Homo sapiens: one gene and its partners. The protein of the gene in region 1 interacts with the protein of each later gene in a biochemical or structural test. Each region holds a gene or a part of one and is shown in the gene's direction. Other genes may lie near its edges. The genes, in order: FN1, FYN and FCN3.

Region 1 (3,650 bases):
CATAGTAGAACCAAGAGACCTCTTGGGTTCCATTTCAGTAAGACATGCTTAGGGGAGTTGCCCATTTTAAATCACCTGGATATCTTCAAGCTAGACAAATCATGAGACTTTTCTGCAGTGACTGGGAAGGTGTTCATGAAGAGTGAACCAGCCATGTGTTGTCTGGTCTTCATGTTTGCAATGCAGAGACCTCTTGCACCTCACAGAAACAGTCTGGTTTCTTGGTGACCAGTAGGTTATACCCAGGAAGCAGATGTCACTATTCCTAGGGATAATACAAAATTATTAACCCAATAGAGTTTGCTAAGGAACTTTGGGAACCGGGCTGATTCTCAACTCTAGTTTAGCTAAGGCACTCTTTCCAGTATGATTCACTGGGTTACCAATAGATTCTATTAAGATAGTATTTAAGTTTTTTAATCCATTCTTTAAATATAAGTCGTCTTAAAGACTTCTATTCAAAAGAACAAGTCCCGTGTGAATAGGCCCAATCAACTTTCCCCATATTTCATGTTAGGGTTTATCCAAGTTCACAGGCAAATCGCAAGAGGCAAGGGTCCATAGTGTTTACAATCTAGTTCAGCATTTGAATGTGCCATTGGGCTTAACAACTTAGAAAACTACCAGGATTTCCACACTTTATATGCATATGTCTGTTTGCTTTCCACCAAAATGACATTTCTATCCTAGGGTAAAATACAGGCTCTCCATGCTCCCAAAAGCTGGAGTGCTGTGCCTGATGTGGCCTTTTCACTGAATTAGTCTCAGTCTTAGCCTGCTGTGTATGAGTGAAGACCAAGCCTCCCAGCCTTTCTTTTCTGCTTAGGACCCAATTTCCTGTGATCTCTCTGGGAAAGCAGGATTCATGACCTCTTCCTTGCCATCCAGATTTCTCTGTGGTTTTCCATTGTGTTCTAAGCAAGACACTTAACTGAATTGACTCCAAGTGACCAGACCTGTTAACGTTTCCCCTGTCTCTGATGGGAAAGCTGTTGTCTGTGTCTCTACTTTAGCCAACCTAAGTACCTACCATGGGTGGAATATGAGACCAAAAAAAAAAATCTGTTCTGCCCTCTCCTAACATTTTCGTTGTATCTTCAACAGACCGCTGCCATGAAGGGGGTCAGTCCTACAAGATTGGTGACACCTGGAGGAGACCACATGAGACTGGTGGTTACATGTTAGAGTGTGTGTGTCTTGGTAATGGAAAAGGAGAATGGACCTGCAAGCCCATAGGTGTGTGAGTCTTAGGGCTGAGCAAGAGCTGGGATGCTTAGTTCTAATGTGGGGTTGGACCAGAATCACATCTACATAGGTCATAGACCTGAATTCCAGTGAAAACCAATAAAGAAATGGGAATTTTGTTTGAAATAATGAATTATTATATAATCCATAGTCTTCTTACAGGAGTTAGATCAAAAAGTACTGACTACACATAGAAGTCTTAACTTTGCTTCAAAAGCATAAGGTAGAATTGAAAGATTTAGAATGGAGTCATTTCTTTTACCTAATAGCTGATCTCAGATTCCTCCTTCGTCAAGATATAATTTATTTAAAAGAAAAAAAAATGACACTTTGGACACATTTCTATATGGAATGTCCTGGACCGAAACATGAAATAGTGTGTGCTTGTCACACTCTGCTCATTTCTTTTCAAATTAAAAGTTGTTGAGCTTCTTTGGATCTCAATCCTCAGTTGAATTTTGTAAGTACAAGCCTGAAAGTTTCTGGCTATAAATTTTACTCTGTTTACTTGTCTTCTAATTTAGAGGTTTTTGTCTTGTTTTGTATTGTTTTGCTTTCCAATATTTAAAAATAGCTTTCTTTGTCATTGTATTTAGGCCACTCAAAATTCATAATTGGTCATTTATAATTAAGATTGGAATTTTGCATATGTAGTCTCCCACAGACTAGATACATACATAGATCCTTGCTACTGGAAATGCTGCTGGGAAGTTTGGGGCTCGCTGAAAATATGTAGTCCATGTACTTATTAGGAGAATGGAATTTCTGCCTGCCAACTCAGCTTGAGCTTTCTTTTGCCTTGGCTACTTACTGTGTGCTTAGATGCTGGGTGTGTCATTCTTTCTGAACAGAGTGCCACTTAAAAAAAATGTGGCTGAATTTTTGCTTACACACTACACTTTAAATTACAGGGAGCTTGCACAATTCAAAATAACCTTTTTTTCCTGTTTTTCTTCCAAATTTCCCTACAGCTGAGAAGTGTTTTGATCATGCTGCTGGGACTTCCTATGTGGTCGGAGAAACGTGGGAGAAGCCCTACCAAGGCTGGATGATGGTAGATTGTACTTGCCTGGGAGAAGGCAGCGGACGCATCACTTGCACTTCTAGAAGTATGTTTTACATCTTTATGTTAAAGATTAAGCCAGGTATTGTTTTCTGGATTCCTAGAGAGAAGGGTAATACTATGTTACTCAGAACACATCCAGTATATCAGCATGCTTTGGTAACTTCTGGAAGTCAAGAAAACTTTCATAACCAACTTATTCCGCATCTTCAGAGAAGACTACATAAATAGAAAAACATATCACTTTGATAAGGTTCAATCTCAGCTCACTGCCACTGACATAGAGTTGAACAAAAGGTTTAGGTTTCCTTCTATGTTTGAAATTTAAATAGGGCACATTCACAGGCTAAATTGATAAAATTAAAAAGAATTTATCCCATAAATTAAAATGATTTATCTACTCTGGAGTTAGGGATAGTGTCTCTGACCTAACGCATTTGATTAGTGCTGTAAAGAAGCTGGCCTCTGGTGTCTTTACTGCTCCTTCTAAGATTGTCTTGGGGTCTTAATTGTTGCCTTTGGGTTTGAAGGCTCCTTTTTTGATATTGTAAACTAATAACAGCTAGAGAGTTTGTTGAAGTAAAACAGCCATTAACTACTGGTGTTGTAAATAAGTTTAAAATCAAATCCAAATAATTTGAACCTGTTTTATTTATCTAGCTGAACCCATTTAACTACCTTTAACATAGCCATCATCCAAATTCAAATTCTTTGCTAACAAAAATAGGTCTCTCATGAAAAGTGGTAACCATTTTGACCAAAGCTTTCCCAGAAACTTGCTGGTTTATTAGATATTTTGCATTTAAAATGTTACTGTGATCATCAGACTTCCAAGATCTTTGTGGCAATATTTTAGCTTAAGACAAATTAGATGTCTGATTCAAACCTTATCTGTTATTTAGAACTCTTTAAATAGCAAGTTGGGAAAAGTTTCTCAAAGAGAAGTCATTTATTCCAGAAAATTTTATAAGGACTTACTTTGTTCAAGGTATTATAGGGGTGCAGATATGAAATGAACATTAGCCCAGCCTTCAAAGAGTACTTAGGGGGTCAGGGAGATGAGAAAGTCTTATACATATTTATCATCTGCAAAACACAGTATTAAAGATTTCAACAGAAATACTGAAAGTAGTGCTATGGAGGTTCAGGGGATGATAATACTTTTCGCTGGGGATTTGGGAAAAAGCTCTAATCAGTAATTATACCTTCATGCAAACTTCTATTCTTGTGGTAGATGGATGTGGGTGTGTATTTGTTTGAACCTACATCAACTATTAATTTTTTTTCTCTAACCCAGGAGTTGCAACAATATCCAATTCACAAAGACATCAGATCCTCTATA
Region 2 (3,650 bases), on another chromosome or scaffold:
CATTGATAAAAGGAACCTTATCTTACTTATCTTGTTTCCTACCAAGTTTTATCTTAGCGGGTATTCTGTTTCATTTAACATTAAACAAATGTGAGTTAGGTCTTTGGTATGTGCTCAACACCTGTATCAATTAGGCTAATGTTAGCAGGTGTAACAAATAGGCCTGCAAATATATAATGGCTCAAAAGCAATAGACGTTTATTCTTGCTCATTTAATAGTCAAAAATTCATGTTTCTGGTCGGTAGGTGGCTTTCCTCCATGCAGTGACTCTGGGTCCCACACCCCTATCTTGTAGCTCCACCATCCCATAGCTTATCATCGTAACCTGTTTCAGTTTACAGAAGGGGCAACAGAGAGTAGACGGGGCACACCCACTTTTAAAATACCTTAGCCTGGAAGTGCCACCATCACTTCCTCTCACATTCTTTACTTGAGGGCTAGTTATATGGCCACATTTAATTGCAAGGGAGCCTGGGAAATGTAGTTTAGCCATGTGCTCAGAAAAAAGATACAGAATAAATGTATTTTTATTGAACAGCTTTGTCAAACACTGCCACTTATCAAGGCACATTCACTGCCCTCAAGAAACTTATAGGCTAATGGGAATTAAATAGAAACCTAGAGCGGACACCCGTCATTGCTTTTCTTTTGATTTTATAAGTTTAGATCTTTTCATCCTAAGCATGTTTCAAAAATCTTACTTTTTGTCATGTTTCAAATTTTATGTTTCAAATGTTGCCAATTCCTACTCAATAATCCCATGTGATACAATCATCTGATGCTTCCTGTGTTGACTTTGATGTGGTTCTTTTACTCCAAAAGCACCTTTCTTGGCTTCATTTTTCATCTGGTCATTCTGTAGACTCCCAAAGTTGCTAGGAGAGTCCTTAGAAATCACACTCCTTCTGGATGTTGCAGCTCACGCCTGTAATCCCAGCACTTTGGGAGGCTGAGGTGGGTGGATCACTTTAGCCCAAGAGTTTGTTATCAGCCTGGGCAACATAGTGAGACCTCGTCTCCACGAAAAATCTTTTAAAAACTATCCAGGCATGGTAGCATGCATCTGTGGTCCCAGCTACTCAAGAGGCTGAGGTGGGAGGATCACTTGAGCCTGGGAGGTAGAGACTGCAGTGAGCTGAGGTCATACCACTGTACTCTAGCCTGGGCTCCAGAGTGAGACCCTATCTCAAAAAGAAAAACAGAAATCACAGTCCCACTCCCTCTTAATTGGAAGAGGAAATTAATTAGCCTGAGAGGTGAAACTCCTTGCCCCAAGGCCTTGCAGCTTCTTAACGGAAGGGCAGGAGGCTCAGCCAGCCAGCTCTTCAGGCCCACATGGGTCTCCTCTGTCACTCAGCTGCCCTCTTTGTCTGTGAGTCTTGCATATTCCACGGAGGTTAAGTGAGCTTCCAAATCTCCATGAGCAGGGTTCTAGTGTTCTGGGTAGTCCCTGTTCTCCACAGGCTTCCAAATTGTTGGAGCAATTCCATTCATACCAGCCATCATAATTGTTAATGCACTTTTTTTTGCCATGAATACTTCATTATATTCATCTGTTCTGCAGACATTAGCCTAGTATGTTACTTTGTGCAAGGCACTGGGGAGATGAGGTCCTGGAAATGAATACTTCTGCTGTCCTTGCTTTTCAGAAGTTCACGGTCTACTAGAAGAGATAAAAATAATTAATAATTGTTAACATTTGTTGAGCATTTACTATATGCCAAGCACTGTTTAAGCTCCGATCTTAACAATAATAATATGAAGTGGTTTCACTTATAATCTCCGTTTTACAGATGGGAAATTGAAGCAAACTTTAGTAGCTTGTTAAGTAACTAATTCAAGATCATACAGCTACTAAGTGGTAGAGTCAGGATTCAGGTCCAATTAGTTTGGTTCCAAAGCCTTTGCCCTTAGCCACTAGGTAATATTCAAAATACTACATATAATGATGATATTAAAATACGTTATGTGCCATAAGGGAGGGTGACTGAAATGCTTTAGAAACTAAGACTTTTGGTTGATGAGAAATATAATTTTATAGCCAAATAGAAATACAATATTCATCCCTACCCTCCTTCCATTCAGACACTTATCTACTACTTACCTGGGAAATACAAAATTAAATTAAACAATGGTAAAGCAAGGCATGTCGATACTGGAAATAATTTTACTCTGTGTGATTATTTAAAGCTGGGTCTTTCTGTGGTACACAATTAGGTCTGTATAAGTTTATGAATTGTCTACATACTTACTCATTTAACAGCATTCATTCATTGCGTATTCTATTTGCCAGACAATTAATTCGATGGTTCAAGGCAAAAGAGATGTGATCCTGTCCCGAAGGAACTTACTTGCTAGTTTTGCAGAGCTATAAAGGAGTCTCTGACCAATGTTAGAAATGCTGGGATTTTAGGGGTCCATGTAGGATGGCAGAGAGTGTGCAGAATGGAGCATGAACCTGGAAAAGAGGTGGGCAAGTGGGATAGCCAAGCAGAGAAGGCTGGAAGAGGAGGGGTCTGAAGGCAAGATGAGTAGAGATGGCTAGGTGAGTGTTGTGGGAAGCTCCCTGTCCCAGAAAGAACAGCCCAGAGGGCGAATGCACAGACCTTTTGGGGAACTGCAGTTAGTTCAGGGCTGTTTGGAGTGGTACAGAGATGGACAAAGGGAAATGACAGAGCTGAAGGAGAAACTGAGAAAGATTCTTGTACGTACTTTATCCTGAGTGCCATTTAAGAGTTGTAAGTGGAGATGTGGCTTTGATGTGATTGTATTTTTATAAAGATCTGGCCACAGTATGGGCCTTTGACCGAGGGCAGGCAGAACTAATGCAGGGAAGGTAGTTATGGAAACTTAAATGAGTAGTAGATGAGGGTCTAAATGGAAGGAAAGGAGGTGCAGATGGAGCAAAAAAGAATTAGAGAGCAGTAGACAGGGTGTAGGGGTAGGTAGAAAAGAATTTCTCTGGGAAATTAGGTAGAGACAAGCAGTCCAATAAGGAAAGCAGGGGGCAGGTATCTAAGCGATGACTTTATCTTAAACACTTTAGACTTCCAGGTGTAGTAGCTCATAGGCAGGTAAATAGAGAGGTCTGGAGTGAGGGAAGAGGACTAGGTCTTTTTTTTTTTTTTTTTTTTTTTTCCCGAGACGGAGTTTCGCTCTTGTTGCCCAGGCTAGAGTGCAATGGCGTGATCTCAGCTCACTGCAACCTCCACCTCCCAGGTTCAAGCGATTCTCCTGCCTCAGCCTCCCGAGTAGCTGGGATTACAGGCACCCAACGCCACACCCGGCTAATTATTGGGGTTTCGCCACGTTGGCCAGGCTGGTCTCGAACTTCTGATTGCAGGGGATCTACCTACCTCAGCTTCCCAAAGTGCTGAGATAATAGGCATGAGCCACTGCTCCCAGCCAGGACTAGGTCTTGAATATAAATTCGTTAGCAAACAAATTACAAAAATTGAAGCCATGGATGTGGGTGAGGTCACCCAGGGAGAATGTGTGGAGTAGAAAGAGCAGAAAGGGCAGAGAGCAAGCCCAGGAACAGAGGAGGAGTCAGGCCCAGAATGGGAGAGGAGCCTGCGGAGTACTAGACCAGCTTCAGAGTTGAGCAACATAAAGAACAAAAAATGCAGTTGGATTTAGCACTGAAGAT
Region 3 (3,750 bases), on another chromosome or scaffold:
CCTGTCAGGCAAACACTGCCTCCACTTCCCCTGATACCACTTGCACCTCAGCCCTCTCCATAAGCACCAGGGAGGTGCAGAGGAGGCCTTGAGGGAGGGTTTCCTGAATGAGTGAATGAATGAGCCCTGCCTCTCCTCCCTTATCACCTGAGGTCCCTCTCCAGCTCAGGCCTGATCCTTCACATCTGGACCCTGGCTGCTGCGTCCTCCCTGGCTTCCCGGCCTCCAGGCCTTCCTACATGGGCTTCCCGCTCAATTGGCGTACATTAGCAGCTGTTTCCTAAGCCTCACGGGACTCAAGGTTGAGCATGGAGTCACTTTCTTTTTTTTTGAGACGGAGTTTTTGCTCTTTCGCCCAGGCTGGAGTGCAGTGGTGCGATCTCGGCTCATTGCAACCTCTGCCTTCGGGTTTCAAGTGATTCTCTTGCCTCAGCCTCCTGAGTAGCTGGGATTACAGGTGCATGCCACCAAGCCCGGCTAATTTTTGTATTTTTAGTAGAGACAGGGTTTCACCGTGTTAGCCAGGCTGGTCTCGAACCCCTGACCTCAGGTGATCTGCCTGCCTCGGACTCCCAAAATCCCGGGATTACAGGCATGAGCCACCGCAGCCAGCCAGAATCACTTTCTTAATGGTGCTTTTCCCTGGCGGGGGCATGGGGCTTGGGTAAAACTCTGTTGCTCTCAGCATATAAGTGGCCAAGAGAACAGAAGTCACGTCCCATCACTGGGCCTCAGTTTCTCTTTCCTTATTCATTTAACTCTTTCTTACTGAGCACCCATTTTGTACCAGGCCCATAATGCAATAATAAGGATTAATAGCAAGTCCATGTGAGGATCGGAGGTGACGTCAGTATGACGCTGGAATGCAGTAGATGCCCAGGAAATGGTAGCAGTTGTCACTATTCATAGCATTGACAAGGATCAGGGAAGGATTCCCAGTGGAGATGGCTGTAGAGCTAGACCTTCATGGACAGATGGGGCTTCACAGGTAGAGACGACTGTGAATGTAGAGGTCTGGAGAGATGGCTGGGGAGCCCTGGAAGCCAGGATCAGAAGTTGGACTCTTTCAGTGTGCGGTGGCTCACACCTGTAATCCTAGCACTTTGGGAGGCCGAGGTGGGTGGATCACCTAAGGTCAGGATTTCGAGACCAGCCTGGCCAACATGGTGAAACCCCTTCTATACTAAAAAAAAAAATACAAAAAATTAGCTGGGCTTGGTGGCGTGCACCCATAATCCCAGCTACTTGGGAGGCTGAGGCAGGAGAATCACTTGAACCCGGGAGGCAGAGGTTGCATTGGTTGCATTGAGCTGAGAGCACGCCATTGCATTCCAGCCTGGGCAACAAGAGTGAAACTCCGTCTCAAAAAAACAAAAAAACAAAAAACAAAAAACAAAAAGATGTTGGACTCCATCCTGGTTGGATAGGGCAGGGATAATGCCCTTTCTCTCTGGGGCTGAAGGAGGAAATACTCCCACCCCCTGCTGGCTCCAGTCTGGGTGGGGTGTCCCTGGGGGACAATGGGAGGAAGTCTTGTTTCATGTCCTCCCACCAGCCTGGCCCCCTTATAATCTGGCATCCTTCCCCTGGTGGGCCCAGCAAGATGGATCTACTGTGGATCCTGCCCTCCCTGTGGCTTCTCCTGCTTGGGGGGCCTGCCTGCCTGAAGACCCAGGAACACCCCAGCTGCCCAGGTGGGCACCTAGGGTGCCCTCCTCACCAACCCACTCCTCATTCCCTCGCTGGGTGTCCCCCCACCAAGGCTCATCAACCTCAAGGAGCAGGGTGGGAGTTTCATAATCTGGGCTCTGCATGTAAATATATGCAAATGGATGCAAAGCACACGAAACCTTGCCAGCTCAGGAGACAAGCATCCTGACAGTGGGAATCTGGGAGACAGGAAGAGAACTGAAGAGGGGTCTGGAAGAGACAGTCTACCCTGTGCCCACCCTGCCTGTGTCTCCCTGTAGGACCCAGGGAACTGGAAGCCAGCAAAGTTGTCCTCCTGCCCAGTTGTCCCGGAGCTCCAGGAAGTCCTGGGGAGAAGGGAGCCCCAGGTCCTCAAGGTGAGAGGGGCTGGGGAGCGGGCTGGGATCTTGGGAATGGGGAAGGCAGGAAAGTAGCAATTTTTGTCTGTGCTGAGGGGCCACGACAAAGGAGCAAGGAACCTACTCTGTGCCAGCTCCAGGCTGGGCACCCGGCATCCTAAGATCAACTCTGCCAGGTAAGTGGTTTCATCCCCATTCTGCTGAGGAGGAAAGGGAGGTTCAGAGAGGATAAGATATTTGCCCGCAATCACAAAGTGAGTGAAGGGTGAAACTGGGATTTGAACCTCTGGCTCCAAGTCTCTTGTTTCTTTTTGGTCCTGGGCATGGGGTGGGACTCAGGAAATCTCTGCCTTTGTGATTTCAGGGCCACCTGGACCACCAGGCAAGATGGGCCCCAAGGGTGAGCCAGGTGAGTAAGTGGGGCTGGAGGCCTCCCCGCTTTCTTTGCCTCTGTCCCTGGACTCTAGGGTGGGATCTCTGCTTGGCTGCTGTGCCTATGATGGCTCTCTCACAGGGGAATGGATGGCTGGGAGGAGTGGGAAGGATTAGGAGAAGGGCCTGGCTACCCTATGATGGCCCTCCTATTGGGGATGGAGGGCTGGGAGGAGTGGGGAGGATTAGGAGAAGGGCCTGGGTACCCTATGAAGGCCCTCCTACAGGGTTTGGAAGGCTGGGAGGAGTGGAGAGGATTAGGAGAAGGGCCTGGGTACCCTATGATGGCCCTCCTACAGGGTATGGAAGGCTGGGAGGAGTGGGAAGGATTCGGAAAAGGGCCTGGGTACCGGCTCCACTGGTGGCTCAGCGCTGGGGTGCTGAGACATCAGAGCCAACACTCATCCCTTCTCTGGGGCAGGAGATCCAGTGAACCTGCTCCGGTGCCAGGAAGGTGAGGCAGCCCTTGCAGGAGCCAGGAACTTGGGATCACATGGTGTTGGGTGTTGGCAGACCCCCAAGTGTGGCCAAGATCCTCCCCACAGCCTCCTCAGAACCCTTCTTCAGGGACCTGAAGGAGCCAAGAGGGTCCCTAGGGTCCCACACTTGTTCCAGTGCCTGGGGGTGGGGGTCAGGGAATAACCTGGGCACCACCCCAGTCCATCTCCCCTTTCCCAGGCCCCAGAAACTGCCGGGAGCTGTTGAGCCAGGGCGCCACCTTGAGCGGCTGGTACCATCTGTGCCTACCTGAGGGCAGGGCCCTCCCAGTCTTTTGTGACATGGACACCGAGGGGGGCGGCTGGCTGGTGAGTGTCTGAGAAATGGGCTAACAGGCCAGGCCCACTGGTCACTTCTCCCCCTTGGCCCCTAGGGGAGCCAGAACCCACCAGAGCAAGGCATTTCCTAGAGGAATTCACTGACAAATGTTTAGTGAGCCCCCAATGGGACCTGAAGAAGTATGAGGGCTTCACAGAGGAGGTGCCTTTTGAAAAGACCTTAAGTTGAGTGCAGTAGCTCACGCCTGTAATCCCAGCTACTTGGGAGGCTGAGGCAAGAGAATTGCCTGAACCCAGGAGGTGGAGGTTGCAGTGAGCCGAGTTCTTGCCATTGCACTCCAGCCTGGGTGAAAAGAGTGAAACTCTGTCTCAAAAAAAAAAAAAAAAAAAAATAGGGTAGGGAGGGGCATTCCAGCTAGAAGTAAAGATAAACTCAGGGAGGCAGCAGAGTAAAAGGTTTGCAGGGAACGCGTGAGTGAGCTGAGAGCAGGCGT

What was found.
Region 2: the proteins of FN1 (region 1) and FYN form a complex in vitro, tested with the Homo sapiens proteins (one study listed by IntAct).
Region 3: the proteins of FN1 (region 1) and FCN3 form a complex in vitro, tested with the Homo sapiens proteins (one study listed by IntAct).

What each region holds. Positions count from the first base shown.
Region 1 is NC_000002.12:215,429,419-215,433,068, reverse strand, and holds part of FN1 (fibronectin isoform 1 precursor), read left to right. Parts: intron 1-1,104; coding exon 1,105-1,236; intron 1,237-2,216; coding exon 2,217-2,354; intron 2,355-3,650. UniProt on the Homo sapiens protein: Fibronectins bind cell surfaces and various compounds including collagen, fibrin, heparin, DNA, and actin. Fibronectins are involved in cell adhesion, cell motility, opsonization, wound healing, and maintenance of cell shape.
Region 2 is NC_000006.12:111,866,948-111,870,597, reverse strand, and holds part of FYN (tyrosine-protein kinase Fyn), read left to right. Parts: intron 1-3,650. UniProt on the Homo sapiens protein: Non-receptor tyrosine-protein kinase that plays a role in many biological processes including regulation of cell growth and survival, cell adhesion, integrin-mediated signaling, cytoskeletal remodeling, cell motility, immune response and axon guidance.
Region 3 is NC_000001.11:27,372,672-27,376,421, reverse strand, and holds the start of FCN3 (ficolin-3 isoform 1 precursor), read left to right. Parts: upstream 1-1,597; 5' UTR 1,598-1,603; coding exon 1,604-1,694; intron 1,695-1,970; coding exon 1,971-2,066; intron 2,067-2,412; coding exon 2,413-2,457; intron 2,458-2,901; coding exon 2,902-2,934; intron 2,935-3,158; coding exon 3,159-3,286; intron 3,287-3,750. UniProt on the Homo sapiens protein: May function in innate immunity through activation of the lectin complement pathway. Calcium-dependent and GlcNAc-binding lectin. Has affinity with GalNAc, GlcNAc, D-fucose, as mono/oligosaccharide and lipopolysaccharides from S.typhimurium and S.minnesota.